2 linked regions of the Homo sapiens genome follow. The protein of the gene in region 1 purifies or fractionates together with the protein of each later gene. This does not show direct contact. Each region holds a gene or a part of one and is shown in the gene's direction. Other genes may lie near its edges.

The links.
Region 2: the proteins of LLPH (region 1) and ZC3HAV1 purify together in Homo sapiens (affinity purification with mass spectrometry; 2 studies listed by BioGRID and IntAct, with this or other methods). This does not show direct contact.

Annotation. Positions count from the first base shown.
Region 1 is NC_000012.12:66,123,607-66,140,342, reverse strand, and holds the start of LLPH (protein LLP homolog), read left to right. Parts: upstream 1-9,592; 5' UTR 9,593-9,638; intron 9,639-11,229; 5' UTR 11,230-11,236; coding exon 11,237-11,447; intron 11,448-16,324; coding exon 16,325-16,503; 3' UTR 16,504-16,736. Other genes in the region: TMBIM4 (protein lifeguard 4), read left to right, coding at 1,574-1,619, 2,177-2,383. UniProt on the Homo sapiens protein: In hippocampal neurons, regulates dendritic and spine growth and synaptic transmission.
Region 2 is NC_000007.14:139,094,707-139,111,274, reverse strand, and holds the start of ZC3HAV1 (zinc finger CCCH-type antiviral protein 1), read left to right. Parts: upstream 1-1,554; 5' UTR 1,555-1,943; coding exon 1,944-2,251; intron 2,252-16,568.

The DNA of each region.
Region 1 (16,736 bases):
TTTTTAATCAATTAAAGTTCAGTTCAATTTGTGTCTTTTGAAAAAAAATAGTATCTTCCATTTCTCTCCTCCTCATGATCATTCTTTCCTCGATCTTGAACTAGGGAGTATATTTTTAATGTCATTGTCTATGCATTCTATCATTGTGTCATTTCTGGATTTGTTTCTATTGATTGTTTCTTCTCCTTGTTATGGGTCATATTTCCTTCATTCTTTTGCATGCCTTTATAATTTTTTATTGGATGCTGGTCATTATAAATTTTACATGGTTGGGTGCTGAATTTTGTTGTATTAACTTTAAATATATTTGGCATTGTTCTCCTAGGATGCAGTTAAGTTCCTTGGAAAGTAAACCTTTTGAGGCTCTGTTAGGAGGTCCAGAACAGCTTTTAGCTTAGGGGCTCATTTGGCCCTAAGGGTACTGCTGAGACAGTACCCTTCAGCATACTACTCAGTGCATGTCTTACGAGGTCTTTCTACTCCAGCTTGTGTGAATGCAAACTATTCCCAGTCCTGTGTGAACTCTGAGGATTGTTCTGCCTGCTTCTCTATTGTGGTTCTTTCTCCAGCCTTGGTCACCTCCTTAACATGCATGTATTAATCAGAATGTAGCTACAGACTCTAGGGGAATCCTGTGCATACACCAGAGTGCTCACTTTTGGTGGATAGTTCTCTTCTTTCTGATATTCTGCCCTGCAAATTCTAGCTACCTTGGCTTCCCTGACCTCTGAATTCTTGTCTGCTCAACTCAAGGAGACCGCAAGTGACTGTATGGGTTCTTATCCCTACACGCTGGCCTGGAAACCCTCTGTAGCTGGGGCAAATATAGACTTCACTTTCTTTGTATCCTTTATCTCAGGAATCCCTGTCCTGTGCTGTTTGCTGTCCAGTGTCCAAGAACTGTTGTTTCATATATTTTGTCTGGTTTTATTTAAGGAAGGAGGATAAATGTGGCCTCTGTAATTCCCTGTGACCTGAAGCAGCTGATAAGTCCCATATTTTATAACAAAAGACTGACTTCTTAGATGTCCTTTCTTATATAATTTATACTCTCTATATATAACAATTGAATTGTAACTCATAAAATTATAGCAGTGTCAGATGTGTCCATCAATTAAGTTCCATAATACATAAGAATAAAATGGAAAGTACATTGTGAACTTCGATAGACATGTTCACAGAATAACTTGTTATTACTTGGTTTAAAAGTGCAATCCTAGTTCATTTGTTTATATATTTTCTAAAAGTTTTTATAGATCTCTGAATTAAAATACTTGTAATGATATTTCTGCTTTTATCTGTATTTTATGTTCCAAAACTTCACAAATTATACTGTTAACTAGGTTTGTATACCATAAAGACAAATGTTGAATAAATAGCTGTTCTTTCAATTTCTTTAAAAAAAAGATCCAAGATGGGCATTATATTCATTGTATGTTTACAAATTCTTACATTTTAGTTATTCTTCAGCAAAAAATCCAGATGGATGTTTTTTTCAGAAAGTGTTGAATGGGTTTACAAAGTTTTTTTGTAAGGAACAATATTGCAAATTACTAAAATTGTATTTTTATAGGCTGTTTGCTCTTTTGTGGATATTGTGCCTGTCAGGATTCTTGAAGGTAAGTTATGTTATAATGGTTAATTTGAAATATAATTCTGGCTGTGTCAATATAAATAACCTCAAAAAGCTATAAGAGATACTCTTATGATAGGACACTTAGTTATAATTATCCAGAACATTTGTATATAGAATGATTATAGAATTATCCCTTTAGAAAATCAGGGTCTTGTGTTGGTCCTTATTATTGACTGAAAAAAAGATGAATGAATAAATGAATTAAATTACATAGAAAGAGGCCCTTGCTTACAACTGCCAAGCTCCAGTGGCACATTTAATTGTGAAAAACGAAATATATTTTTAAATAATTTATATGTGGAATGCTGTTTTTCAAAGTGGGTAATTTAGTTTAATGGAATATAACCACTCATTCATCCTTCCATCCAACAGAGGCAAGTTTGGACTTGCCTTGCCTTTTTCTGCTTTTAACATTTGTATTCAAAGTTGTACACCATTGTCAAATGTATAATGTAGCAGTAAATCATTAGAGGAAGTAAGTTAAGTCCTGTTAATACTGTTCTCAAATATAAACATATTTCTTTAATCTCTTCCCTATAGTTTTTTTTTTATAGTGAGATAATGGAGTTGGTCTTAGCCGCTGCAGGAGCCCTTCTTTTCTGTGGATTCATCATCTATGACACACACTCACTGATGCATAAACTGTCACCTGAAGAGTACGTATTAGCTGCCATCAGCCTCTACTTGGATATCATCAATCTATTCCTGCACCTGTTACGGTTTCTGGAAGCAGTTAATAAAAAGTAATTAAAAGTATCTCAGCTCAACTGAAGAACAACAAAAAAAATTTAATGAGAAAAAAGGATTAAAGTAATTGGAAGCAGTATATAGAAACTGTTTCATTAAGTAATAAAGTTTGAAACAATGATTAAATACTGTTACAATCTTTATTTGTATCATATGTAATTTTGAGAGCTTTAAAATCTTACTATTCTTTATGATACCTCATTTCTAAATCCTTGATTTAGGATCTCAGTTAAGAGCTATCAAAATTCTATTAAAAATGCTTTTCTGGCTGGGCACAGTGGCTCACGCCTGTAATCCCACCACTTTGGGAGACCGAGGCAGGTGGATCACGAGGTCAAGAGGTTGAGACCATCCTGGCCAACATGGTGAAACCCCGTCTCTACTAAAAATACAAAAATTAGCTGGATGTGGTGGCACACACCTGTAGTCCCAGCTAGTCAAGAGGCTGAGGCCAGAGAATCGCTTGAACCTGGGAGGTGGAGGTTGCATTGAGCCAAGATCACGCCACTGCATTCCAGCCTGGTGACAGAGCGAGACTCAGTCTCAAAAAAAAAAAAAAAATTTTTCTTCCTAAATTAGCCACGCATAGCAGTTCGTTTGCAATTCAAAAATAATTTTATGAGTAGATAAGAATATCAGTTTACCGTTGTCTAGTGATTTTATCTAAATTTTCCCTGAATTATTAAGTAATATTGATTTGGCTTTGATTCTGAAGTAGTAGAGTCTTTACCATTATAAACTGTAAATCTCTTTTTGCTTAAAAGGAAAAAAATGTAAAAGATAAATTCCACAGAGAATTATTCAGTATTACATTAAAATGTTAATGACTTTTTATTTTAAATTGTACTAACATTAAAAGTTGGCCTGAAAGTCAGATATTATGACAAAATTTGACATTAATTGTTTTTAAAGTATAGATTTCATTTGAAATTATAGAATGGTAATGTGGTTAGAGGACACCAAAGATACTGGGTCATCAGCCATTAAGTATATCTATTTCAAAATTAAAATATTTGGGAAGTATTGTCTTATGGTTTCATTTGTGTTGGTCCACACAGCATGTTAGGTCAGTGTACCAGTAACCAATGAAATTTTGTCAAATTCCCTCACTGTACTAGTTTGTTAGGCTGCCATAACAAAGTTCTACAGCTTGGGTGGCTTCAACAAGAAATTTGTTTTCCCACAGTTCTGGAGGCTAAAAGTCCAAGATCAAGGTGTTAGCAGGGTTGGTTTCCTTTGAGGCCTTTCTCTTTGATTTGTAGATGGCCATCTTCTCCCTGTGTCTTTAAATGGCCTTCCCTCTGTACTTGTCTGTGCCCAAATTTCTTCTTCTTATGAGGACACCAGTCATACTGGATTAGGGCCCACACTGAGGACCTCATTTTTCCTTAATTATCTCTTTCAAAACCTATCTCCAAATACAGTCACATTCTGAAGTGCTGGGATTAGGATTTCTTCATGTGAATTTTGGGGGGACTACAACTCAGCCCATAACACCCCCTAAGTATTTCCCAGCTATTAAGTTGAAATAAACTTGTAGTATCAATTTAAGCTTGCATGATTTGTAGATGTAAATTTGACTTTATTATCATTAACTGTTGAATTATCAAGTGTATGATGCAGTGCAATCAAGTTTAACAGCATGGTGGGTAAGAGCATCTAGATTAGAATCATTGCAGTCCAACCAGGTGCTTAAGTGACATTTGGCGAATTATTTATCCTTCCTTAGGTCTTCTGCCTCATCTTCATAATGGGAATAATGATGTCTAGCTTATTGGGCTGTTATAAGGATTAAATGAGATAGATAAATAAACTAAACTAAGTGCTTAATTAATGTCAGCTGATGGTATTAATACCATTTTCTTTTTTTTTTTTTTTTTTTTTTTTTAATTTATTTTTTTATTGATAATTCTTGGTTGTTTCTCACAGAGGGGGATTTGGCAGGGTCATGGGACAATAGTGGAGGGAAGGTCAGCAGATAAACAAGTGAACAAAGGTCTCTGGTTTTCCTAGGCAGAGGACCCTGCAGCCTTCCGCAGTGTTTGTGTCCCTGATTACTTGAGATTAGGGATTGGTGATGACTCTTAACGAGCATGCTGCCTTCAAGCATCTGTTTAACAAAGCACATCTTGCACCGCCCTTAATCCATTTAACCCTGAGTGGACACAGCACATGTTTCAGAGAGCACAGGGTTGGGGGTAAGGTCACAGATCAACAGGATCCCAAGGCAGAAGAATTTTTCTTAGTGCAGAACAAAATGAAAAGTCTCCCATGTCTACTTCTTTCTACACAGACACAGCAACCATCCGATTTCTCAATCTTTTCCCCACCTTTCCCCCTTTTCTATTCCACAAAACCGCCATTGTCATCATGGCCCGTTCTCAATGAGCTGTTGGGCACACCTCCCAGACGGGGTGGTGGCTGGGCAGAGGGGCTCCTCACTTCCCAGTAGGGGCGGCCGGGCAGAGGCGCCCCTCACCTCCCGGACGGGGCAGCTGGCCGGGCGGGGGGGCTGACCCCCCCCCACCTCCCTCCCAGACGGGGCAGCTGGCCGGGCAGAGGGGCTCCTCACTTCCCAGTAGGGGCGGCCGGGCAGAGGTGCCCCTCACCTCCCGGACGGGGCAGCTGGCCGGGCAGGGGGCTGACCCCCCCACCTCCCTCCCAGACTGGGCGGCTGGCCGGGCAAAGGGGCTCCTCACTTCCCAGTAGGGGCGGCCGGGCAGAGGCGCCCCTCACCTCCCAGACGGGGCAGCTGGCCGGGCGGAGGGCTGACCCCCCCACCTCCCTCCTGGACAGGGCGGCTGGCTGGGCAGGGGGCTGACCCCCCCACCTCCCTCCCGGACGGGGCGGCTGGCCGGGCAGAGGGGCTCCTCACTTCCCAGTAGGGGCGGCCGGGCAGAGGCGCCCCTCACCTCCCAGACGGGGCGGCTGGCCGGGCGGAGGGCTGACCCCCCCACCTCCCTCCCGGACAGGGCAGCTGGCCAGGCTGAGGGGCTCCTCACTTCCCAGTAGGGGTGGCCGGGCAGAGGCGCCCCTCACCTCCCGGACGGGGCGGCTGGCCGGGCGGGGGGCTGACCCCCGACCTCCCTCCCGGATGGGGCGGCTGGCCGGGCAGGGGCTGACCCCCCCACCTCCCTCCCGGACGGGGTGGCTGCCGGGCAGAGACGCTCCTCACTTCCCAGATGGGGTGGCTGCCGGGCGGAGAGGCTCCTCACTTCTCAGACGGGGCAGCTGCCGGGCGGAGGGGCTCCTCACTTCTCAGACGGGGTGGTTGCCAGGCAGAGGGTCTCCTCACTTCTCACACGGGGCGGCCGGGCAGAGACGCTCCTCACCTCCCAGACGGGGTCTCGGCCGGGCAGAGGCACTCCTCACATCCCAGATGGGGCGGCGGGGCAGAGGCGCTCCCCACATCTCAGACGATGGGCGGCCGGGCAGAGACGCTCCTCACTTCCTAGATGTGATGGCGGCTGGGAAGAGGCGCTCCTCACTTCCTAGATGGGATGGCGGCCGGGCGCAGACGCTCCTCACTTTCCAGACTGGGCAGCCAGGCAGAGAGGCTCCTCACATCCCAGACGATGGGCAGCCAGGCAGAGACGCTCCTCACTTCCCAGACGGGGTGGCGGCCGGGCAGAGGCTGCAATCTCGGCACCGTGGGAGGCCAAGGCAGGCGGCTGGGAGGTGTAGGCCGTAGCGAGCCGAGATCACGCCACTGCACTCCAGTCTGGGCACCATTGAGCACTGAGTGAACGAGACTCCGTCTGCAATCCTGGCACCTCGGGAGGCCAAGGCTGGCGGATCACTCGCGGTCAGGGGCTGGAGACCGGCCCGGCCAACACAGCGAAACCCCGTCTCCACCAAGACCAGTCAGGTGTGGCGGCGCGTGCCTGCAATCGCAGGCACTCGGCAGGCTGAGGCAGGAGAATCAGGCAGGGAGGTTGCAGTGAGCCGAGATGGCAGCAGTACAGTCCAGCTTCGGCTCCGCATGAGAGGGAGACCGTGGGGAGAGTGAGAGGGAGAGGGAGAGGGAGAGGGAGAGGGAGACGGAGAGGGAGAGGGAGAGGGAGAGGCCCCCTTACATTTTTGCACGCTATTAATACCATTTTCAGTTCAAAGGTGGAATGGACTGATTGTGACTAAAGATTCTGTATAAGCAAAAGTAGATCTGACATTTTTAAAATGTAAAACAATGCCATTCTTTTCACTAAATTATTTTTTATTTAGAAAATATAGTTATTTTCCATAAAAATGTTAACATGTAGTAAGTTTATCCTTTCTAAATGACTTAAATTTTCCAAAAAAAATTGTTTTAATTTCTGATAAGATCAATATAATAAGCGTGTAAAGGAATCCCAAGACCAAGAAGTTTGAAAACCTTTGGTACAAAATATTACATTTTATAAATCAACCATTGGTTTATTCCTGTGTTCTGTCAATGAATTTTATGTGGTATGTAAGTCCGTGTATGTGTCCCACTGTGTATAAGTATGAGTTCTTCTAGGTAGGGAATATACCTCGACCATTTTAAAGCATTGCATTAAGTAAAGGTGAAAATACACAGACTTCAGAAATATTAATAGAAAGTGGAATTAGGGCTGGGCATGGTGGCTCATACCTGTAATCCCAGCACTTTGGGAGACCGAGGCGGGCAGATCACCTGAGGTTGGGAGTTCGAGATCAGCCTGGCTAACACGGTGAAACCCCGTCTCTACTAAATATACAAAATTAGCTGGGCGTGTTGGCGCACGCCTGTAATCCCAGCTACTCAGGAGGCTGAGCCAGAAGAATCACTTGAATCCAGGAGGCAGAGGTTGCAGTGAGCCAGGATCGTGCCACTGCACTCCAGCCTGGTGACGAAGTGAGACTCCGTCTCAAAAAAAAAAAGAACATGGAATTAGCAGGACTTGGACAGAGCAACAGGCAACTCAGTGTGCAAGGGCCATAGGAAGAACAGCTAAGAGGTAGGAGGAAAATGAGGAAAGAGCAATATCTGAGAACTTCTGTATTTCTTGAACGTAATTTGGGAAAAGAGATGCAGTAGGCCGTATACACCTGCCTTGATTTCTTCTCAGACCTAGCTTCAGTCTACTTGATGCATTTCCAGGGATTAGTGGTCAACAGCCTGCAGCTGCAGGCCTTTTTTTTGGAGCAGCTAAGGACTTAGATACTTTTTGCTTTTTCCTTTCATTTTTCTAGAGCTTTGTCTTGAAGTCCCCATTATCTAGGGAATGGGCAACATGGGGTCACTATCTGAATCCCAGAAGTCTTCCTGTTCCTTACTGATTGTGCAGATCAGGGATTCCATGGGAGAGGCCTGACTGCAGGGGCCCCACTGACTGTTCTGCATCATGTAGCATGCCTTTTGGATGAGAAAATCAGTCTGCTTCCTGTAAGGTATTCAGGGCCACCCACTGTGCCTCTAGTTCTATATATAGGCTCCTTCCAGCTCTGTGATGAGCCACTGCAATGTTTAGTTGGACCCTTAAGCCTTGTTTGTCCATTAGGAGATAAAGTTTCCCAAAAACAGTAGTTTAGTTTCCTTCATCTTTGCAAATTCAGCATAGTGCCTATAATAGAGTGCATATTCAAAGGCATGAATGAAGGAATGAATTAGACTTTTAAATATACTAAGGCCACTTTTCTAGAACTGCTTTTATATAACTGGTGAGGGGACATAAGTAAAAAGGAGTAAAAGGGTGTTTTACTCAGCTGTTTAAAGCACTTGTAATGCTAAATCATGGCATGGTATTTTAACAACATGACATTTTCATAATAGGTAAATTATTTTTTCTGGTGCCAAGTGCCTATTCAAAAGTCTTGTCCTGGTATGTTAAACAAGATACAGTAAATATGGACTATCAGAATATAAGTTTTCTCTAAAATGCAATGTGCACTTATATTTTTGGGTGAGGTAGCTAACTTCTCATTTGAAAGATGAGGTACAGTATATGGTTAACTTGTAAAACAGAAATTCACTTGCTTTATAAGAACGAAATCTCATTTAAATAAACCAGGTTTCTTAGGCATGCTTCCTTTTTTTATATCAAATGTTCTAGGTTTTTTTCAGCCTCTTTAACCTTGCTATATTCTGAATTCAGTAATTTCCATACTATGCATGGTTTCATAAAGGACACAAATTTAAAGAAAAAAGGTACCCATAGATTGCCTCAGAACCCCTTTTTCTGGCAACCAGCAGGAGTTTACCAGGCCATCATTAAAGACATGTTTTTTGGGTATATGTCGTAAATCTCTAGAAACATTGCTTACAAATAGTACTGTGTAGCTATACTTTTGAAACTATAATGTAAAAAGGGTACCATTTGTTGAACTCTTACAGCATCAATTAGGTTGTATTATGTTCACTTTAGGGACAAGGAAATTCAGGCCCTTATGACATTAATTACTCACCCATATCGTTCACAAGTGTTGGAAGCAAGAGTACAACACAGACCTATATGGTTCCAAAGCCTATGCCAGTAGAAATAGTTGTACAGTAAGTGTTATTCGTGAGCTAAGACAATCGTCCTAGGCTTAGCATTGTGTCTGATACGTAAGTGATCAGACAGGTAAACATTGATAGAACTGAAATCCTTTGATCATTTTACCCTTTAAATTCTTCTCTGGGGTAGGAAAAGCTTGTTTTCTGTTTTTGGTAACCGCTTTGAGTATAACTGACATGCAATAAGTTGCACATATTTAAAGTGTGCAGTTTGATACGGTTTTACATATGTGTACATCTGTGAGGCCATCACCCGAGATGAGAAAATGCACAGGCTGCAAATAAAAATGATCTCAATACGGCCTCTGGAAGAACACCTGATCTAGGCTGACTTGATCTAAGGAAATACATGAGTATCATGTAAACGCTGAGGTCAGATCTAAAGGTCGGCTCGGAGCTCCCTATCTGACAAGTAGGGTCCCCTGGCCAGGTTCACTCCATAGGTTAGTCTCGGGGCTACCCTGCCCACGTCCGGAAAGCGGACCTACCTGGGGCCTAACCTTGACCGGACACCCGTCAGCATTCTCCAAATCCGACTTCTACACCTGTATGGGACGGACCAAGTTTCTAGGTCCGCGATCACACCAATGGCGGAAGCTCGTCAGCGCCCGGGTTCCAAAATCCCGCCTCTCAAGGCTTCTTGAGACATTTTGTCTCCCGGCGTGCAATGCGTCCGCCCCGGGTGGCCTCCGCCCGGAAGACGGAAGTGCAAAGACTTCCGGTCGGCGTGAGCGTGAGGTGTGGGTGTTCGTTTCTCAGGTGAGTTCGGTTCCTCACCGGTCCAGTGACACATGGGACTTGGGGCTTGATTCCGCCACCCTTGGAGAATTTCGTTTCTTGACACTCGCTGGGCTATACTTGAGCTCCAGTCCGGAGATGCAGGCCTTGTTGAGGGCGAGGGTTCCCCTTGCTCTTTTTGGTGGGGGCCCTCCGGCTTCCGAGTGCACTGGATAAAGTGGAGCCCACCCCTGTCGTTCACTCCCGCTGAAGTTAACTTCGGCCCTCAAGGTTGTTTGCCGCCCGCTTTCCTAGCCCCTCGCAAGGGTTGAGTTATGTAGACAAGGGAGCGGAATGACTGTGATTGCCGGCGTTCAAAAAATGTTAGTGGTTCGTTCAACAAGTATGCAAAAAGTGTGCGATTCAGCAGTGAACAAGACCTTTCCCTCTACCTTCGTGGAGTCTACAGTCTGGGGAGAGGGTCGGGGGGCGTGACAGAAAACAATGGTTTCAGGTTGTAACACTTAATAAGCAGGGAAGGGAGCTTACGGAGGTCAGAGGAGTCCTTTCTGAGGTAGCGAATGAAGGAGCAAGCCTTGAGAAGAGCAGTTGCCAGGCATAGGGACAGCAAATATGAAGGCACTGACGTAGAGATAGTTTGGACTCTTTACAGACGTAGTTGGTGCCTGCGGGGATGGGGATGGAGAATGAAATGAAATAGAGTTGAAGGAGGCAGGGGACAGATCACAAATGACCTTGTAGATCTTGAATATATATGAGGGAGGAGGTCTTTAAAGAACTCGAAGAAAGGCAGTGAATGCTTTTTTAAAAGATCACACTGAGCACCTTGTGGAGGATTTAGGGCGGAACTGAGTGGAAAGAAAACAAGAGTAGGAATAGATAAGTTTACAGTCGTTAAGTTGGCTTGAGAGGATGGATAATGAAGATGAGGTGAAGTGTTTATAAAAATCATTTGTAATTTGTAAGCTGTTGCATAAATGTAAGGTGATGACGCTGTTGCATTCTGGGGAAATTAAATTTCTGTATTTTGTAAAGAAATTCAGCCGGGCGCGGTGGCTCAAGCCTGTAATCCCAGCACTTTGGGAGGCCGAGGCGGGCGGATCACAATGTCAGGAGATCGAGACTATCCTGGCTAACACGGTGAAAACCCGTCTCTACTAAAAATACAAAAAATTAGCCAGGCGTGGTGGCGGGCGCCTGTAGTCCCAGCTGCTCGGGAGGCTGAGGCAGGAGAATGGCGTGAACCTGAGAGGTGGAGGTTGCAGTGAGCTGAGATCGCGCCACTGCACTCCAGCCTGGGACACAGAACAAGACTCTGTCTCAAAAAAAAAAAAAGAAAAAAGACATGCAAGGTGCTTTCAGAATTGGTTTGATTTGTAGTTTGCTTATGACCACAAGTTTGATTTGATATCTTGTTATTTAGTGACTGTGTATGTACCATGTTGATCTTCATATAAGTTGCATGTTAAGTCCTAAAAAGTGAACAGATTGAAGAGTTTTACTTTTCACTTGTTTTGTAGAGATACCTGTTGGCCTGGTTTTCTAAGGATTTGCCTGTTTTCTTTTTTATATTAAAGATTTGCTTTTGAATGTGTGTTTTTGTTAACTTCAGGTAAAACATGGCTAAAAGCTTACGGAGTAAGTGGAAAAGAAAGATGCGTGCTGAAAAGAGAAAAAAGAATGCCCCAAAGGAGGCCAGCAGGCTTAAAAGTATTCTCAAACTAGACGGTGATGTTTTAATGAAAGATGTTCAAGAGATAGCAACTGTGGTGGTACCCAAACCCAAACATTGCCAAGAGAAAATGCAATGTGAGGTAAAAGATGAAAAAGGTGAGTGTGCTTCTCCTTTTTCTTTCTCTTTTTTTTTTTTTTTTTTTGAGGCAGGGTCTCCTTCCTCTGTCACCTAGGCTAGAGTGCAGTGGTGTGATTATAGCTTCCTGCAGCCTTGAATTCCTGAGCTGAAGCGGATTCTTCCCACCTCAGCCTTCCAAAGCACTGGGTTACAGGCATGAACCACAGTGCCCAGCCCCTCTGCGCTTCATTTAAAAACAAAAAAAATTCTGTCAAGCCTGTTCATGTATATACATATGTTTTGGATTATTTAGAGTGGGTCTTTGGTGCTTATACAATAGCCTCCATGTCTCAGGAATAAACAGTTCTACAGGAGTAGACAAATCTAGGCATACTCTGGTTGGAAGGGTACACAGTTCACTCAGGGCCTAGGCAGCATAGGTCTTCATTTTACTCTTTGTAAGATCTAATTCCCATTCTATGAGTCCTATGCCCTTATACTATTATCCTGAAAATCACAGGGTTTCACTATTTCATTTTGACAGATTCTAGGAACCTTTGTGTCTTAATCATGAAGTTGGAGGATATATATATAATGCTGCTTTTTGCACATTTAATGCACCAATTTGGCAGCAAACTAAATTAAGTATTTGCAATACCCAGACTTTAAAATAGAAATACATGTATTTGATGTCTTATGCCCAAGGAAAAGAGCAGTATTTCTCAATCTCCCAACCTTAGGGGGTTTTTTCCCTTTAAAAATGGCTGTTTTTAACTTTTTCTTCTTCCCATTTCATCCTTCTCCCACTCTGTATGAATAAAAATTACAAAAAGCATTTTACTTCAACTTCTGTGAGAAAAAGGGGCCAACCAAGAAATATCCTCATCTTTCCACTACCCAAGTCTATAAGAATTCAAATGTTGTATAGTCTGTTTTCCCTTTTTTATTAATGTTCTCTCCAAGGCCAGTTTCTCCACTTGTGTTCTGAATCCTCTCCACCGTTAACATTCTCAGGGGTTGTACTCATGCATCTGCCTTATCAGTCTCCTCCACTGGGTCATTGCCAACAGCATAGATGTGTTCTGGGATGTTCAATGTCAAAAGAAAGAAAGAAAAATTTCTCCCTTGATCTCAAGTTCTCTCAATCTGCTGCTTTATTTCAGCTGTCCTTGAAACTTTTTGAAACACTTGCCTTCACTTGCTGTTTTCATTTCCTCACACACACATCACCCCTCCCTATTGGTTCTTTTTTGTTGTTGTTAAGGCAAAATCCACATAACATAAAATTAACCATTTTAAAGTGTACAGTTCAGTGGTATTTAGTACATTCATGTTGTGCAACCATCACCTCTAGTTCCAAAACACTTTCCTCACCCTAAAAGGAAACTTAATACCCATTAAGAAGTCTGTCTCTCCTCCTCCTACCCCCAGCCTCTGGCAACCACTAATATGCTCTTTTCATGTGTGAATTTACCTGTTTTGAATATTTCTTATAAATGGAATCATATATAATGAGACCTTTGTGCCTGGCTTATTTCCCTTAGCATGGTGCTTTTGAAGGTCACGCACATTGTAGCATATATCAGTACTTCCTTTCTTTTTAAGGCTAAATAATAGTCCATTGCATGTACCACGTTTCATATCCATTCAACGGTTGCTGGGCATTTGGATTTCTTTCCCCTTATGGGTGTTGTGAATAGTGCTGCTGTGAACATTCAGGTGCACAAGGTTTTGTTTGATAAGTGGAATTGCTGGGTCATATGGTAATTCTTTTTAATGTTCTCCACATCAGCCACACTATTTTACATTCCCACCTGCAGTGTTTGAGTATTTGAGTTTCTTCACATCCTCACTAATACTTGTTTTCCATTTTCGGATTATAGCCATCTTCGAGGGTATGAAATAGATTCTCATTGTAATTTTGATTTGAAGTTTCCTAATGACTAATGACATTGAATGAAGTGTTTTTTGGTTTTTGTTTGTTTGTTTTTTGTTTTTTTTTTTTGAGATGGAGTCTTACTGTTGCCCAGGCTGGAGTGCAGTGGCATGATCTCGGCTCACCACAACCTCTGCCTCCCAGGTTCAAGCAATTCTCCTGCCTCAGACTCCCAAGTAGCTGGGAATACAGGCGTGTGCCACCATGCCCAGCTGAATTTTGCATTTTTAGTAGGGTTGGGGTTTCACCATGTTGGCCAGGCTGGTCTTGAACTCCTGACCTCAAGTGATCCACCTGCCTCAGCCTCCCAAAGTGCTGGGATTACAGGTGTGAGCCACCACACCCGGCTGAACATTTTTTCATATGCTGATTGACCATTTGTATTATCTTTTTGGAGAAAGGTCTACTCAAGTCTTTTGCCTCGTTTTTCAATTACGTTGTTTGTCTTTTTATTATCGGGTTGTTAAGAGTTCTTTATATGTTCTAGATACCAGATGCCCACATCCACTCTTGATTCTTTTGGATTGATCCTGTTTTCTTTTCTCTCCTGTTTTCTATTTATTTTGTTATACCCTCTAATTTCCTTGACCTTGAATTCTGGTTCTTATTACTTGGTTTTCTCTTATATTTTTAATTTCTAAAAGTTTTTCTTTTTTTTTTTACTTTTTTTTTTTGAGATGAACTCTCACTCTGTCGCCCAGGCTGGAGTGCAGTGGCATGATCTCGGCTCACTGCAAGCTCCATCTCCCGGGTTCGCGCCATTCTCCTGCCTCAGCCTCCCTAGTAGCTGGGACTACAGGCGCCTGCGATCACACCCGGCTAATTTTTTGTATTTTTAGTGGAGACGGGGTTTCACCATGTTAGCCAGGATGGTCTCGATCTCCTGACCTCGTGATCCACCCGCCTCGGCCTCCCAAAGTGCTGGGATTACAGGCGTGAGCCACTGCGCCTGGCCTACTGTTCCTTTTTCATAGCTTTGTGTTCTTTGTGTTTTGTAAATGCCCCTTGAGTCATCAACTCTGTGTTCTTAATGGGCATATATCTTCTCCTAAGGGTATTAATTACAATTTGCTTTTGAAATTTTTATTTATGGTATGTATTATCTGTCTTTCCTCTTGGAATTCCCTCCCAAGCCCTTCCATTCCTTTACTTTTGTCTCTTTCTTTCATATTAGAAGCTTTTCTCAAATGTCTGGTGATCAGTGGTCATTGTTTGTATTTAAAAGTGTGGCACTACAATGATGATTGGAAGCTGGAGGGAGACAAGGTGTGGGAGAGGGTCTGTCAACTGCTAGATGTATAGAAGATTTGGAATGGCTCCAGGAGGTTTTATTCGGAGATCTCCTGTATCAGAATCTGTTAAGTCTTTTTTTTTCCTCATCATCCCCAGAGAGAAATTATCTTATGTCCTGCCTGGGGAATTCTGGATGCCCTTATTCTTAGATATTTTAGGAGCTAAAGGGTGGTGAGACTGAGACTGAGGGAGTCTCCCCATTTAGTAATCTATTTGTTATCAATTTGGCTCTCATCTCTACCCTCAAGTTCATGTTTTTCCTTATTTCTACTCTTTCAACTGCCTGCCTGATTTCTTAAGCCATAAACCTAGTAGTCATCCTTGATTCCTCTTTCCTTTATTCCCCACATCTAAACCATTAGCAAGTCTTACTGATTGTCCCAAAAATACATTAGAAATCTGTATCCATTTTTTTCCTGCTTTCACCTTGATTCAGAAGGCCGTCATCTCTTGCCTGTACTATTATAGGAGCCTTTTTACTTCTCTCTTCCGCTCTTGTTCCCTTCTCATTTATCTTCTACATATCCACCAGTGTGATCTTTTCAGAAGGTAAATCAGTTTATATCACTGCCATGCTTAAAAACCTCATTATCTTAACATGTTCTTACCAGCGCCTACCAGTTCTTTTTTTTGCGGGGAGACAGGATCTCACTTTGTTGCCCAGGCTGGAGTATAGTGGCTGTTCACAGGCGTGACCAAGCCCACAACATCCTTGAACTCCTGGCCTCAAATGATCCTCCCACCCCAGTCTCCCGAATAGCTGAGACTACAAATGCCTATAGATACTATACCTGGCTGAGGTTTTCTTTCTGTTTGCTGTGTTATTCTCCCGTCAACAGAACACTGTAAACTCCGTGAGGGCTAGGAGTTCATATGGACCACTATATCCCCATAAACTAGAACAGCACCTAAAATAATCATTCAACACCTAGTTATTGAGTGGCTGTTATATACCAGACACTATTCTAGATACTGTGGAAACAATGGCAAATATCTAATATAATGCCAGGTAGTCGAGATAATAGAAGACTTTGTGTATCCTGATAAGGAGGTCCCAGTGAGGGACTCTGAGCATGTCCTTCACAGTGGAGAAGGTGATAGGTGTACCACAGCATGTTTGCACTGAGCTTCCTGCCAAGTCTCCTATCAGTAGAGCTGGATCTCTGGGTGTTACCTAGCTAGGAAAAGTATGCCAGCCCCAGGATGTGTCCAGGTCTTCTCTGTTGAGTGCCTGTCTCTGCCATTACAACCCTGCTGCTGACTACTCCATCGAGTTCATTAGAAGTTCGTTCTCAGTTCATTATAATTTAGTTCAAGTTCTTAAGAAATGGCCAGTCATTCCTAATCAGTTCATTACATCTAAGGTGTATCCCTTAGAAGTGTAGGTATGCTTACTGAACTCAAGGAATCACTTAATATGAGAAATGTTGTTGTAACTCACATGTGCTCAGAACCATATATCTACTAATGTACTAACTCAGAGCCATGCATCCTAAATGTTTCCTATTTAACATTACTATTCTAAGGAAGGACAGTCATGCCAACATTCTTTATAAAGTTTTTTTCTTCTCTATTTTCGGTCTACCTTCAGTTCTAATGTTCTGATGTTCTCAGTGCATTAATATGCTTTCACAGGGTGGTTTTTTTCATACATGGTGTTAATAGTTTTTCCATCTTTTTATGCAGATGACATGAAAATGGAGACTGATATTAAGAGAAACAAAAAGACTCTTCTAGACCAGCATGGACAGTACCCAATATGGATGAACCAAAGGCAAAGAAAAAGGCTGAAGGCAAAGCGAGAGAAAAGAAAGGGGAAAAGCAAAGCAAAAGCAGTGAAAGTGGCAAAGGGTTTGGCCTGGTAGACTCTTAAAACCTTGGAAAATGCCACATGGGATAGATGACGGATTAGAATGTATACACATGTATACTTTGATTTCAACTGCCACCAAATGAAAACCATTTGTTTTCCTATTTTAACTTGGCCTTTTTTCTTCAATTCAAACCCAGCATAACTCCTCAAGTTTGTTTTGGGAACTTGAATAAAATATTTTCTTTGATACATCCAAGCTCTACTGATACTTTAACTGGATGCTAC
Region 2 (16,568 bases), on another chromosome or scaffold:
ATCCTAAGATGATCCTATGTGGCCCCCATGTTTGGCTGGTTTTCATAACAAAGTACTCTATTCCTGAAAGAGGGTTTATATACCATGAATGACAAAACTGAGGAGAATTCTCATTAATCATTTTGAAGAATTTCTAAGTTAGCAACCAGAATCTATTATTTTTTAAAAAGATGTATTTCTTATCTGATCAAATGACCCATCTATTTTATTTGAAGATGTTGGAAAAAAAAACCTTTTTTCTCTTCAACTTGTGTCCTGTCTTTGGGGGCCTAAAAATTAACTGGCACTAGACAGATAAATAGGAGAAAAGACAAAGTTTATTTACACATGCATGCAGGAGCTTCCAGTAACAGAAAACTCAAAAGTAAAGGTTTATATACCTCAACTTAACAAAAAGGAAAGTTTTAGGGCTTCAGTAGGAGAGTTTGGAAGTTTTGATTGGGTTGTTTTGTGTTTTTGAGACAAAGTCTCAGCGCTATCCCCCAGGCTGGAGTGCAGTGGCACAATCCCGGCTCGTTGCAGCCTCCTCCCGTGCTCAAGCAATCCTCCCACCTCAGGCTCCCGAGTAGCTGGGACTGCGGCTGCACACCACCATGCCCGGGTTGTTTTTATTATTATTATTATTATTATTATTATTATTATTATTATTATTATTGAAGAGAGCTCACTATGTTGCCCAGGCTAGTCTTGAACTCCTGGGTTCAAGCAATCCTCCCACTGCCTCGGCTTCCTAAAGCGCTGGGATTACGGGCTGAGCCACAGCACCCAGCCCATTGGGTTTTTTGGTGCTAATGGTAATGGGACAGTCTGTCTTCCTGGCAGCTGAATACTCCGAGAGGCTTTTAATGGCACCATGTTTTCGGGAGGTTTTGCTTTAGTCAGATAAGGGAAGTTTCATTAAGATTTCTTTCTACATCTTCTGTAGCTCAATGTTTTCACTTAAAAACAATCTTTATGTCAACTCTGGGGGTCAAAGTACGTCCCCACGGTGGAAAAGTTCTTGTCCCAATCTCTACGGGGAGGAACCGATCTGAAATCTTGGGATATGTCTTAGCATGTCCACCGTGATTGAGGTACAAGCAGTGGTTCAGGGCACCGAGTTAGCGATTCTAGGTAAGCAAGACCATGTCAAGAAGTGGTTTGTCCAAAAGTTCGTGAGAAGGCAGAAACGAGGGAGAGTGGCAATCGTTGTTCTTTAAGAGGGCACGGTGGTGGAGGAGAAACTTGCACATCGGGGCCTGGGGTACCACGATCTGGGGCCTGGGGACGCGATTTGGGGAAACTCGGTGGCATCTGGGCTCCGCTTGATGCCAGTGCGTGTTCGTGCAAGTTACTTCCTCAAGTTCAGGGTGAGGATAATAATATCTACCATGTGGAGTTGCTGGGAAGATTCACTACCAACAGAGGCAGAGCGCACGGCTCGCAGGAAGCGCTCGCTAGGGTCTGCTCTTTCCGGGAATGGGTGGGGTGCGCACTCCTCAACAGGGCTCTCAGGACTTGCGTCACACGCCTCAGTCGGCTGGCTTATAAAACACCGGCCAGAGCCCCAAGATCGCTTTTAGTTTCTCTTCTTTCTAAAGAAGGCTCGCGGAGCCCGGCTGGAGAACCTCACCCTCGCCGAGCCTAGAACCGAGAGGGGGCCACCCCAGGCGGTCACCAGCAGATTTGCCCGCGCGTTCTCTTTCTTTCCACCCAGTTGCCCTTGCGGCCGGCTGTAAACCTGCCACTAGGACCCGGTCGGTGAGATCTAGCCTCTTGACCTGAGAGCCGAGAGTGGATCGCTGGGCTGGGCTAACGGCGACGGAGAGCGCGCCCTCGCTGACTCCGGGCGCGCCCAGCAGTAGCACCGCCCGCGCCCGCCCCTGGACACTTGTAAGTTTCGATTTCCGATTTCCGCGGAACCGAGTCCCGCGCCGCGGCAGAGCCAGCACAGCCAGCGCGCCATGGCGGACCCGGAGGTGTGCTGCTTCATCACCAAAATCCTGTGCGCCCACGGGGGCCGCATGGCCCTGGACGCGCTGCTCCAGGAGATCGCGCTGTCTGAGCCGCAGCTCTGTGAGGTGCTGCAGGTGGCCGGGCCCGACCGCTTTGTGGTGTTGGAGACCGGCGGCGAGGCCGGGATCACCCGATCGGTGGTGGCCACCACTCGAGCCCGGGTCTGCCGTCGCAAGTACTGCCAGAGACCCTGCGATAACCTGCATCTCTGCAAACTCAACTTGCTGGGCCGGTGCAACTATTCGCAGTCCGAGCGGTGAGTGCACCCGGAGGGAGGGGCGCTGTCCGCAGCCGTGGTCGGGGTGGACTGTCCAGGCGGGCAATGTTCTGGGAGGGGCACGGCTTCGCCGGGACCCCGCACCTGACAGCCTCCGCCTCCAGCCACTCCCTTCTCTGCTCCCCTCTGGGAGCCTCTGCAGGGCCCGCGCTTCTACCTTTGCAGTTCCCTTCCTTCCGGCACCTCCAGACATTTTCTCGAGAATGGCTAAAATGCTAGTGCCTGGAGGAGACCAGGCTCAACCTCCACCCCTTTCCCCGCCCGCCCGCACGAATCAGAAGAATAAAGTGCTCTGGAGCCAGCCAGGGCCTAGAGAAGCGGTAGGCAGGTTTGGGAAGGAAGGAAAGAGCCTCCCGTCTTTGGTATCTTGAGTCTTTCCCTCCCTACTACCTCCTTCCCTAGACGTGGCGGAGCCAGTAACCCAGCCGCCCTGGGCCCCCGGTCCGTCTCCGCCGGAGCGAGCCGCAGGTCTCTCTGCTTGTCCCTCCCTTCCCGGTCACCCCCATGCCCCTCATCACCGCTTTTCTGATGCCTGGCGCGTAGCAGGGGTGGCCCTTTTCCAGGTTCCTGAAGTTGTAGCAGCCGCGGGCCTTCCCTCCGGGTGGTCTCTCTACGGTGGCGCGCGCAGTTGACCGCCTGCCTTGGGACAACTCTCTTAAATCCCTTTGAAGCAGTGTGGCTCACGTCTCGGGCCACTGCTTCTGTTGTTTCCGTTTGCCTTTTTTTTTTTTCGTCTAAATGCAGATGCGCTGCAAGGTTTGGGTTAAGACTCTTGAGTGATTTTCTTCCCAGTTTCTCCCTAAGAGAGCTTGCTCCCTCGAGGACAGCTGCACATCTAAAAAGATGGCTTCCAGGTCCACATTCGCTGCCCAGGCCTTTCCCTTGATCCCAAGCCCTTCCTCTCCCGCGTGTGTCCTGTCCATGGAGTCAAACTCATCTTTTCCCCCAGGCAGGGTTTTAATCCTCCTCACAATCTGTCATCACCAAGTCCTTTTTGTGAAGTCTCTTTCCCTTCTTGGCGGATTCTGCCTTCCCATCTAATTTCTGAATGAACTGAATGAACGCCTTGTTGAATTAATGAATGGCCAGTCTTTCCTCCCACCCTTTCTGTCACTATGTGCTCTGCTCAATTACTTTTCTCGATACAGTACTTTTTACACTTGGCCCATTCTTAAACACTTTGACTTGTGTCCCAGGGTTTAAAATGGTTGTCAGCAAACTTTTTAGGCTGGAGTGCAGTGGCTCCACCTCGGTTCACTGCAACCTCCACCTCCCAGGTTCAAGCGATTCTCCTGCCTCAGCCTCCCGAGTAGCTGGGATTACAGGCATGCACCATCGCACCCGGCCAATTTTTGTATTTTTAGTAGAGACAGGGTTTCACCATGTTGGCCAGGCTGGTCTCGAACTCCTGACCTCAGGTGATCCACTTGTCTCAGCCTCCCAAAGTGCTGGGATTACAGGCATAAGCCACCAAGTCCGACCAGTCGGCAAACTTTTGATCACGCACCTAACAAAAACTCCAGTCACTCACCCCCAATATACGTGTAATAAAACACACAAAGGTAAGTGTTTTAGATGGATGAGGTAGAGGACGCAATGTATTTTTTTAAAAATTTCTTTAGAGCAAAAACCCTTTCAGCTCACTCTAACGTTTTTAAAAAGTGCTTGAATGTGTTCCTTTATTTAAAATTTTCTTTAATATGTTGTGGGGCAACAATTTGAAGGTTGTTTCTGAGTTGCTGGGAGTTATGGGTATCGAGGAAATCATCTAAGTCATTGCTGGTCACTGAAGAAATCTCTGAGAAGGAGAAGAGAGCAGAGGGTGGAGGATAGAAAAGGAAGGAACATTCTAGCATGTTCTAGCACTACACCAAATAACATGGTTGGAAGGCTTTGTTATGTTTTTTCTGTTCTTATCTTTTCTATTATGACAAATTCTTCACCAACTAGTGTTGATTTTTAGTATGAAATACATATGCTTTTTATTTTTTTATTTCTTACTATGGATATTTTCAACATACTCAAAAGTAGAGAGAAAAAAATGATGAAGCCCCTTGTACCCATCATTTCAACAGTTTTGAAAATATGGCCAGTTTTGTTTCATTTATTCTCCCTATTCCCCATGTGTCCCCAACTCCAATGTGTTATTTTAAAGCAAATCTCAGCAACCATTTGATTACTAAGTACTTTAGTATCTCTAAAACATAAGAACTATGTTTTATTAACATAATACAGTACAATGATCACATTTTTGTAAAAAAAATTACAATTTTAATATCATCTATTGTCCAGTTGGTATTCAAATTTCCCTGATTGTCTTATAAATCCAACTTTTATTTTCAGGGAAAAGGATACATAGACATAATCCTTTTAAAAAAAGATTTTTTTAAAATTTTTTGAGATAGGGTCACCCAAGGCTGGAGTGCAGTGACCCGATCTCAGCTCACTGCAAACTCTGCCTCCCAGGTTCAAGCAATTCTACTGCCTCAGACTCCCAAGTAGCTGGGATTATAGGTGTGTGCCACCATGCTTGGCTAATTTTTTGTATTTTTAGTAGAGATGGGGTTTCGCGATGTTGGCCAGGCCGGTCTCGAACTCCTGAGCTCAAGCGATCTGCCGGCCTAGGCCTCCCAAAGTGCTGGGATTACAGGCCTGAGCCACTGCCTCACCTGGCCTATAATTGTTTTCATATGTTACATATCTAACATTTAAATACTTTGTTTCAATTTGTTGTAGGCAATATGCTTAGAAATTTTAGTTTTATGAAGTTTATTATGGTATATTTTTCCCTGGTTTGAAACAGCAAAACTGTTTTAAACTCGTTAATTGGGTTGTTAACCTCCACTTTTATAAGAATATATATAATATAGGGATTATTTGGTCTATCTAAATTTGGATGGACCCTCCAGAGAAGTCAATAAAGTTTATTTTTTTTAGTAGAGTGATAAAATCTTATTTCCTAACATTTATTGGCAGAGCCATATTTTTAATTTCATTTTATATCACTTTTGAATTTGGGAATTACAAACTTTTAATCTATTAATGTATAAAGTGTTGTAATAAGGACCTCTGGGAGAATTTTTTTTTTGTCCTCGGGTCCTAGAAAACATGTTTTTTTCCTCCCTACTTATGTTTTAAAAATATTCTCCTCTTAGCGAGTAATAAAACCTTGTCTTCCAAAACTTGCCACTTGTGAGTTTAAGAACTTTCTTTGTAGATTACCAGTTAATGGGGTCTGTTAACTAATTGATACCCATCTTGACATTACTATTCAGTTCACTAAACTGGTCTCTGTTTACAGGGGGACGATTTGCATTGTGCTGGGTGTATAAAATTTTGTCTGTGGTACTATTATTTATAGATAGGATTTATCCTGTCTATTCTGTAGTTCCTGTCTTTTCTTTTGCAATGTTTTTAGTGATACATTTTAGTTGACAACAGGGCTTGCTTCAATGTTGGATAATTGTTTTGGTGAATCGGTTTGGATATTTCTATTTGCTTTGCTGAAATATATGCCCACACATGGAGTTCTAATCCCACTTCTGATGCAAAAATAATCACTATTTATCGAACAAATAACTATGTGCCAACCACTATGATAAGCACTTTGGAGATGATATCCAGGTTAGTCTTTAGGATAGCTCCTAAGGTAGTATTTTAAGTCCCATCCTTATTGTAGGAAACTCGGGCATGGAGCCTTTCAGAAATCTACTGAAAGTAACATAACTAGAAGCTGGCAGGATTGGTATTTGAACCTAGATCTGCATGACTTCCTTTTTTTTTTCTTTAGAAATGAGATCTTGCTTTGTCACCCAGACTGAAGTGCAGTGGCACGGTCATAGCTCACTGCCACTTCGAATTCCTAGGCTCAGATGATCCTCCTCCCTCAGCCTCCTGAGTAGCTGGGACTACAGGTGGGCGCCACCATGTCCGGCTAACTTTTCTTTTCTTTTTTTTTTTTTTTTTTTTTGAGACAGAGTCTCACTCTGTCACCCAGGCTGGAGTGCAGTGGCGTGATCTCAGCTCGCTGCAACCTCCGCCTCCCCGGTTCAAGCGATTGTCCTGCCTCAGCCTCCCGAGTAGCTGGGATTACAAGCATGTGCCACCACACCCAGCTAATTTTTGTATTTTTTAGTAGAGATGGGATTTTGCCATTTTGCCTGGGCTGCTCTCAAACTCCTAGGCTTAAGCAATCTTCCCAGCCTCCCAAAGTGCAGGATTACAGGCATGAGCCACCGCTCCCGGCCTTGTTTGACTTTTTTTTTTTTTTTTTTTTTTTTTGTGACAGAGTCTCGCTCTGTTGCCAGGCTGGAGTGCAGTGGCGTGATCTCAGCTCGCTGCAACCTCCGCCTCCCCGGTTCAAGCGATTCTCCTGCCTCAGCCTCCCGCGTAGCTGGGACTACAGGCGCCTGCCACCACGCCTGGCTAATTTTTTTTCATTTTTGTATTTTAGTAGAGACGGGATTTCACTATGTTGCCCAGTCTGGTCTCCAACTCCTGAGCTCAGGCAATCCGCCCACCTCAGCCTCCCAAAGTGCTGGGATTACAGGCGTGAGCCACCGCGCCCGGCCTTGACTTCTTAACTAGCTACTTACATTGTCCAGTAACTATATGAAGTTATTAATTCAAAAATTTATTTTGCCTGCATGATTTCTGTTAACTGTTTCAAGCAGGCTGCCTAAGGGTCTTTACCTTGCTTTGCGGTTTTTGCCGATGTGGGTGTTTCCTCTGGGTTCTTTCCTGTTTGTATGTCTTTCCTTTTCGGTTAATTCACATTTTGGGTGGGGGTGGGTAGATGGGAAGAGGACTAGTTGACTGTTTCGCAAGTTGAATAGAATACTGAAAAACGCAAGCATCAGAGAATATTTATTCTGAACCCATAAAAGTTATAACTCACCTCCTGGGATAAATAAGTGTTCACATTTTTCAGTTTTGCTCCTCTTTTAAAATATACTAAACAATCATAACAGACCTAAGGTTATTTTTTTCTCATCCCCAGTCTCATTTCCCTTTCCTAAGAAGCAGCTTCAATCATGATTTTGGTGTGTATCTTGTCCTTCCATGATTTTATAATTTCCTCTTGTATATGTTTGCATCCATATACAAAATGTAGTATTTTATGTGTTTTAGAATTTTTATTCAATGCTGTGTTTTGGAGATCTATTCATATTGCTACACAAGGACCTAGTTTATTCATTTTAACAGTTGAAAAGTATTTCATCATAGGATTTATACCACAGTTCAGTTACCTATTCCCCCCAGTAATGGATATATAGTATATTTCCAGGTTTTTGTTATACCAAATCGTGCTGCCAAGAATTTACGTGCAAGTGTTTCCTGGTGCTCATGGTTAGAGCTTTTCCAGGGTAGATCATTAGGAAGTGGAATTGTTGGTTTGAATTGTTACATAGCTTCAACTTTTCCAGATTCTGACGAATTAGTATAAAGGTGGCTGTGCCAATTTATACTTATATGTCTGAGTGTCCCAGTTTCCTCATTTTCTGGCCAATTAATGCTTGGTGTTATCAGACTTTTTTGGCTTATGCCAGTCGGAAGGCTTTGAAATAGTCATTATTTGAATTCAAAAAAAATTTTTTTCCTGGGCTGGGTGCAGTGGCTCATGGGTGTACTCCCAGTGCTTTGGGAGGCCAAGATGAGAGGATTGAGGACAGGAGTTCAAGACTAGCCTGGACAACATAGTGAGACCCCATCAAAAAATAAAAAAAAAATAAAAAAATAAAAAAATAAAAAACAAGTAAAATAAATAAAAAATAAAAATAATTATATAAAAAATATTAGCTGGGCGTGGTGGTGCATGCCCATAGTCCTAGCAGTGCTGGAGGCTGAGGCAGAAGGATTGTTTGATCCCAGGAATTTTGAGGTTACAGTGAGCTATGTTCATGCCAGTGCACACCAGCCTGGGCAACAGAGTGTGGCTCTGTCTCCAAAAAAATTTTTTTACAACAAATTTTAAAGTTTTTGTATTAAAGTTTTTATTTTATATATATCATATATAAACACACACACACATATACATATACATATACATATACATATACATATATATATACTTTTTTTTTTTTTGAGACAGGATCTTGTTCTGTCACCACTCTGGAGTGTGGTGGTGCAAATATGGCTCACTGCAGCCTCCACCTCCTGGATTCAAACGATCCTCCCATGTCAGCCTCCCAGTAGCTGGGACCAGGCTAGTGCCACCATACCTGGCTAATTTGTGTGTGTGTGTGTGTGTGTGTGTGTGTGTGTGTGTGTGTGTATAGAGACAGTGTCTCACTATTTTGCCCAGGCTGGTCTCGAGTGCCTGGGCTCAAGCATTCCTCTTGCCTCAGCCTCCCAAACTGCTGGGATTACAGGCATGAGCCACTAAGCCCAGCTCAGCATGATTTATTACTGTTAAATATTTAGACATTTGTATCCAAGCCTCCATTTATAACCTTGCTCTGGGCCCCACCAATTTTAGAGAAGGTCTACTCTGATTCCCTGAAATGTCTTCATTGTTTTCTTTTGCATGAATGTACACAATTTATATATTGATCTTCTTATTATTAAAATTGAGACTGGCCTCAGTAGCTAATATCTGTAATCCCAGTACTTCAAGAGGCCGAGGTGGGAGAATCTCTTGAAGTCAGGGGTTCGAGACCAGCCCGGGCAACATAGCTCCTACAAAAACATTAAAAAATAAAATTAGTTGGACACAGTGGCACACACCTGTGGTCCCAGTTACTCAGGAGGCTGAGGCGGGAGGATCACTTGAGCCTGGGAGGACAAGGCTGCGGTCAGGTGCAGTTGCGCCACTGCCCTCCAGCCTGGGCAATAGAATGAGACCCTGCCTCTGAAAAAACAAAGTAAAATTGATATTGTTTTAAGTATTTGCTATTAAACCATTATGCTTTGAACATTTTGGTATATGCTTCTTTGTGTACATGTACATGAGTTTCCCTAGAGATCTAGTAGTGGAATTTTGATTTTTTTTTTTTTTTATTGATCATTCTTGGGTGTTTCTCACAGAGGGGGATTTAGCAGGGTCATAGGACAATAGTGGAGGGAAGGTCAGCAGATAAACAAGTGAACAAATGTCTCTGGTTTTCCTAGGCAGAGGACCCTGCGGCCTTCCGCAGTGTTTGTGTCCCTGGGTACTTGAGATTAGGGAGTGGTGATGACTCTTAACGAGTCTGCTGCCTTCAAGCATCTGTTTAACAAAGCACATCTTGCACCGCCCTTAATCCATTTAACCCTGAGTGGACACAGCACATGTTTCAGAGAGCACAGGGTTGGGGGTAAGGTCATAGATCAACAGCATCCCAAGGCAGAAGAATTTTTCTTAGTACAGAACAAAATGAAGTCTCCCATGTCTACTTTCTACACAGACACAGTAACAATCCGATTTCTCTATCATTTCCCCACCTTTCCCCCTTTTCTATTCCACAAAACCGCCATCGTCATCATGGCCCGTTCTCAATGAGCTGTTGGGTACACCTCCCAGACGGGGTGGTGGCCGGGCTGAGGCGCTCCTCACATCCCAGACGGGGCGGCAGGGCAGAGGCGCTCCCCGCATCTCAGACGATGGGCGGCCTGGCAGAGACGCTCCTCACTTCCTAGACGGGATGGCGGCCGGGAAGAGGCGCTCCTCACTTCCCAGACTGGGCAGCCGAGCAGAGGGGCTGCTCACATCCCAGACGATGGGCGGCCAGGCAGAGACGCTCCTCACTTCCCAGACGGGGTGGCGGCAGGGCAGAGGCTGCGATCTCGGCACTTTGGGAGGCCAAGGCAGGCGGCTGGGAGGTGGAGGTTGTAGCTAGCCGAGATCACACCACTGCACTCCAGCCTGGGCAAGATTGAGCACTGAGTGAGCAAGACCCCGTCTGCCATCCCGGCACCTCGGGAGGCCGAGGCTGGCGGATCACTCGCGGTTAGGAGCTGGAGACCAGCCCGGCCAACACAGCGAAACCCCGTCTCCACCAAAAAAATACGAAAACCAGTCAGGCGTGGCGGCACGCGCCTGCAATCGCAGGCACTCGGCAGGCTGAGGCAGGAGAATCAGGCAGGGAGGTTGCAGTGAGCCGAGATGGCAGCAGTACAGTCCAGCCTCGGCTCCGCATCAGAGGGAGACGGTGGAAAGAGAGGGAGAGGGAGACCGTGGAAAGAGAGGGAGAGGGAGACCGTGGAAAGAGAGGGAGAGGGAGACCGTGGAAAGAGAGGGAGAGGGAGACCGTGGAAAGAGAGGGAGAGTGGAATTTTGATTCTTAAAGTTTTATGTGATAATGCCAAATTGTTTTCCGAAGTGTGTTTGCCAAGTTATACTCCCACCAGAAGAATAAGAGCCTTCCCTTGCCTCACATAGTGGCCAAGTGGTATCGTCAGCTTTTAAAAATTTGTGCCAATACAAGGAATGTGAAATTGTATCACTGTGGTTTTTTTTGTTTGTTTTTGTTTTTGTTTTTGTTTTTTTTTGAGACAGAGCCTCGGTCTGTCGCCCAGGCTGGAGTGCAGTGGTGCAATCTCGGTTCAGTGCAGTCTCCGCCTCCTGGGTTCACGCCATTCTGCCTCAGCCTCCTGAGTAGCTGGGACTAGAGGTGCATGCCACCACCCCTGGCTAATTTTTTTTTTTTGTATTTTGGGTAGAGACAGGGTTTCACCATGTTCGCTAGGGTGGTCTCGATCTCCTGACCTCGTGATCTGCCCACCTTGGCCTCCCAAAGTGCTGGGATTACAGGCGTGAGCCACCGCGCCCAGCCCTCATTGTGGTTTTAATTCTTTATATATTCTGGATCTCTAGCCCTTTTAAGTCTTATTACTCATTTTTTTAAGTTTGTCTTACTTGGCATCTTAGTAGTTGCTTCTTATTCGCATTTTACTTTTTTGGTCATCATAGCACTCTATTTTTGTTTGTAACAGTTTTTGTTTGTTTGTTTTTTACCATTTTAAAAATGGCTAAAACTATTTTTATTTATTTTTTGAGATAAAGTATTTATTTTTTGTTTGTTTTTTACCATTTTAAAAATGGCTAAAACTATTTATTTTATTTATTTACTTTTTTGAGGTTTATTTATTTATTTATTTATTTATTTTTTGTTCTGTCACCCAGGCTAGAGTGCAGTGGTGTGATCTCAGCTCACTGCAACCTCCGCCTCCTGGGTTCAAGCGATTCTCTTGCCTCAGCCTCCCAAGTAGCTGGGATTACAGGCACGCGCCACCATGCCTGGCTAATTTTTGTATTTTTAGTAGAGACAGGGTTTTGCCACATTGGCCAGGCTGCTCTTGAACTCCTGACCTCAGGTGATCTGCCCTCCTGGGCCTCCCGAAGTAAAACTATTTTAAAGTGTACAGTTCAGTGGCAATAAGTATATTCATGATGTTGTGCAACTGTTACCACTATTGGAATTCCAGAACATTTTCATCACCCCAAAGAGAAACCCCACAACCATCAGGAACCAGTCCTCATTCTCCCCTTTCCTCAGCCCCTGGCGATCTCTAACCTACTTTTTGTTTGTTTTCCAATTCTGGACATTTCCTGTAAATGGGATCTAATAATATGTGGCCTTTTGTGTCTGCTTCTTTCACTAAGGAAAAATGATTTGCATTTTACTCTTGCATGTTCTGTGTTGTTTGTGTGGGCGTATTCATCTAGGAGAAATCTTCCTGAAGTTCCTTCTGTAACTAATTCTGCACTGTCCATGGAGTCATGTTATTGTCAGACTGGTGGCCTTAGAGACATGCTGTTTTCTGCAACATCGTGACACAAAAGGGTGCACCCTGTAAGAATCATTTGGGAATTTTTGTTCTCTTTTCACAAACACTACATCTCAAATTTTTAATTTGATCAAATTTGACTCTCGGTGTCTGCAATTTTCTTTAGAAATTAAGCTAACAAACATTATGACATTGTAATATTGTGAACCATGATAAAATCTTAAATAGTGACAAATGAAGCATGTGATAACACAATATTTTCTACTTTTTACATAATGCAGAGATGGCAAAATTACACATTTAAAATAAGTAGATATATTTTTCCATCCATTAAATGGTTCTAATTTGCTTACTGCTTCTGCCTGTATTTACTTCCAAACCAGGTATCTGCGAGCTTTTCCTGCGGCTACTTTGGAACAGAAGAAGCCATAGTAACATAGAGGTGAAAAAGGGGTAAAAGGTTTCAGGAGCACCTAGGATTTCAGGCCCAGTGAGAAATCACTTCAACCAAATTGCAGCAGGGGAGCTGGTCTCAGGTTGGGAGGAGAGAGGGGAGACTTATTTCATGATCTTTTCTCTATTTCCCATACAGGGAAGAGATAGTATTTTATTATTTTTTATGTATTATTTTGTATTTACTTATTTATTTATTAAAATAGAGACGGGGGTCTCAATATTTTGCTTAGGCTGATCTAAAACTCCCGAGCTCAAGCCACCCTCCTGCCCCAGCCTCCTGAATAGGTGGGATTACAGATGTGTACCACCACTCCTGGCACTGGGAAGATATTTTAATATGTTTTAGACCAATTTAGAAAATGAAGCTAAAAGAGGTCATCTAAGGGAAATCGTTTCCTAACATTTTGATCCCGCATGCCTATCAGCAGAGAATGTTTTGAGCATGTACTCCTAATGTGTGTACATTTATTTAAACATTCTATGATGGAAAATTCTTAATTTGTATACTATTTACTGTTCTACTTTTTAAAACTTTTTAAAATCAATTTTATTGAGGTATGATTTACATACAATAAAATGTACCCATTTAAAGTGTATGGAGGCCGGGCGCCATGGCTCATGCTGTAATCCTAGCACTTTGGGAGGCCAAGGCAGGCGGCTCACTTGAGGTCAGGAATTTCACCAGAGATGGTGGAACCCCATCTCTACTAAAAAAACAAAAAAAAATTTAGCTGGGCATGGTGGCGTGCACTTGTAATCCCAGCTACTCAGGAGGCTGAGGCAGGAGAATCTCTTGAACCCAGGATGTGGAGGTTGCAGTAAGTCGAGATTGCACCATTGCCCTCCAACCTGGGCGACAGCGTGAGACTCCATCTTAAAAAAAAAGGTAAATAATGTGTATGGTTTAAAGAGTTTTGATAAATGGATGCCCCTGTGTAACCATCACAACACTCTAGATACAGAACATTTTCATCAGCCCTAAAGGTTCTCTTGTGCCCCTTCTCAGTTAACCAGGGAGTCCCCCCACTCCTCCAGCCCTTTCAGCCCAGGCAATACTTTTCTGGGCTGAAAAGATTTTTTTACATTAAGAAATATAAGGAGTTCCGGCCGGGCTTGGTGGCTTATGCCTGTAATCCCAGCACTTTAGGAGGCCGAGGCGAGCGGATCACGAGGTCAGGAGATCCAGACCATCCTGGCTAACACGGTGAAACCCCGTCTCTACTAAAAATACAAAAAATTAGCCGAGCGTGGTGGCGGGCACCTGTAATCCCAGCTACTCGGGAGGCTGAGGCAGGAGAATGGCGTGAACCCAGGAGGTGGAGCTTGCAATAAGCCGAGATCGCGCCACTGCACTCCAGCCTGGGCGACAGAGCGAGACTCCATCTCAAAGAAAAAAAAAAAAAAAAAAAATATATATATATATATATATATATATATGGAGTTCCAATATTTGTTTCCATCCATGATGGATTGTTTTGAGTAGCTTCTGGGATGCAGTTACCTAGCTTTGGAGCAGTGCTTCTCAAACTTTGACATGCATTTTCATCACATGGGAGAGTCTACTAAAATGCAGGTTCCCAAGTCACCTATTGGAAATTCTGTTCCGAAGAGGAGGGTTGGGGCCTGAGAATCTGCATTTTTATTCATTTATTTTTAAAATTTTCTTTTTTTTATTTTTTATTTTTATTATTATTATTTTTTTAGACAGAGCCTCCCTCTCTCACCCAGGCCGGAGTGCAGTGGCACGATCTCTGCTCACTGCAACCTCTGCCTCCTGGGTTCAAGCAATCCTCCCACCAAGCAATCCTCCCACCTCAGCTCTGAAGTAGCTGGGATTACAGGCCTCTGCCACCATGCCCGGCTAACTTCTTGTATTTTCAATAGAGACATGTTGCCCCGGCTGGTCTTGAATTCCTAAGCTCAAGCTATCCACCCTCCTCAGCCTCCCAAGCTGCTGGGATTACAGATGTAAGCCACTGCGCCCCCAGGATCTGCATTTTTAAATACCACCCTAAAGAATCCATTTGCAGGGGTCAAACCACACTTTCAGAAACATATAATTCCTTGGGGGTACACTTCCTGGAAGACTGCAAATGCAGAGTTTTATGTGGCTTTCGAGTTTGAGGGAGTGAGTAAAAGAAATGAATTTTTTAGTTCTGAATAAATGAAAGATTTTTCTTTAAGTGATCTTTCTCAGAGATTAGGGGTTCTATGACTTTTATGTGACAGACCAAAAGACATAGGAAACTTTTGGCATCCTAGGTACCAAGTCAATAAATATTTATTGAGCACAAACTTTGTGTCACAAATGATAGACAATTCTAGAGGCTTCTACCCCTTCCTTTGTCACTCACAGGATCCTGAAATACTGTCAACCAGTTAATTAATCTCTCTCTGGTTAATATTTGTTAACTTTCAGAGGGACTTATGCTGGGAAGTATTGTGGCGGGTGGTGGGGAGAAGCCAGCCTGTGAGAGGAGAGGGGGCTTGTGTGAACTACTTTCTCTGATCATCAAGATTTTGGTGGTCGGGTACGGTGGCTCACGCCTGTAATCCCAGCACTTTGGGAGGCTGAGACGGGTGGATCACCTGAGGTCAGGAGTTCAAGACCAGCCTGATCAACATGGAGAAACCCCGTCTCTACTAAAAATACAAAATTAGCCGGGAGTGGTGGTGCATGCCTATAATTCCAGCTACTCGGGAGGCTGAGGCAGGAGAATCACTTGAACCCGGGAGGCGGAGGTTGCGGTGAGCTGAGATTGCGCCATTGCACTCCAGCCTGAGCAACAAGACTGGAACTCCGTCTCAAAAAACAAACAAACAAAAAAAAACATTGTAGCAGTAACGCCACCACCTGCGGCCATCTACTCTCCTTTTTCTCAGTCCTGATGTGGACCTAGGGCAATGTTTCTCAAACTTTGCTGCATGTTGGGATCACTTAGGAAATCTTTAAAAAATACTGATGCCCGTCTCCTACCTTCTGATTTAATTAGGGTTTGAATTGGACTTTGGGATTTTGTTTTTTTAAGTCCCTAGATGGTTTTTAATGGGCAACAAGCTTGTGAACCATGAACTTAGGGGACTAGAGAAGTCAAGACTGGAGAGACTGTCCATAATAACAGAAAGATGATATTTTGGTGGCACCGGTGCTGTTTGTCCCACTCTTGGTACAACTGTAGGGTATGTGCGGATTCTTGGCCTCCGGCCTCCCCTATCCTCAGCGGGCCCAGCCTCCTCTGCTCTCCAGTCTTGCAAGGCCCTCGGTGCTTTCCTCTTCCTCCTCGGTGCAGGCTGTGGCTTGCCGTGGCTGCAGCCTTAGGTTCACCATTTTCTGCAGTGAGCTGGGGCTCTCTTTGTGCCTGCTGTGTTCTGGGTAATACAGTTGTGGTTAAAGGAAGCTCATTTTTTTCGGCTCCACCCTCTGTGTCTCCCCACATCCTTCGTTACCCTGCTCATGTGATCTCGTCTGGTCTATTCTGTTTCTCCTCCATCTCACTAGGGGCTCTAGAGGCAGTAAACCATCCCTACCCTCTAATAACACGGCAATTTAATCTTGAATATCAGAAGTACAAATATGGGGAGTAGGAGCCTCGTGGCTTTAAAATAATATCGCGTTAGGGTTGGTTTTGACTGATGACATTTTATTCTTTAGCTCAATGTTCTCTAGATTTTATCTTTCACACATCCTGGTTCCTTTTTTACCTGGCTTATATCATGGTGAGTGATTTCCTGTTTTCTATACAAATCAACGATCTTTTTGTTTTTGCCAACCCTATTAGGTGTTAGGGAGCAGAGGGGATGAAGGAGAGAAGGGAAGGAGTACTTCGATATAATTACTGTCCAAAAAAAAAAAAAAAAGACTCGGGTTACTGTCTCTTTTTGGTCTGACTGTTGAGTTCAGAGCTAGTCCTGTGTTTACCGATTTGTGAAGTGCAAGAGCTCCGAGGTGAACATCCAGTTCAGGAATCTAACTCAGAATCAAATCTGACAAGCGCATCCAGTGATTCTCAGCTCAGACTGCACGTGGGAATCACCCGGGCTCCCACCGCAGTAAGATGAAGCCAGTCTCCAGGGTGTGGCCCAGGGTTAGGTTATTTTCAACACTGCCCAGTTGATCATTATGTGTAGCCAG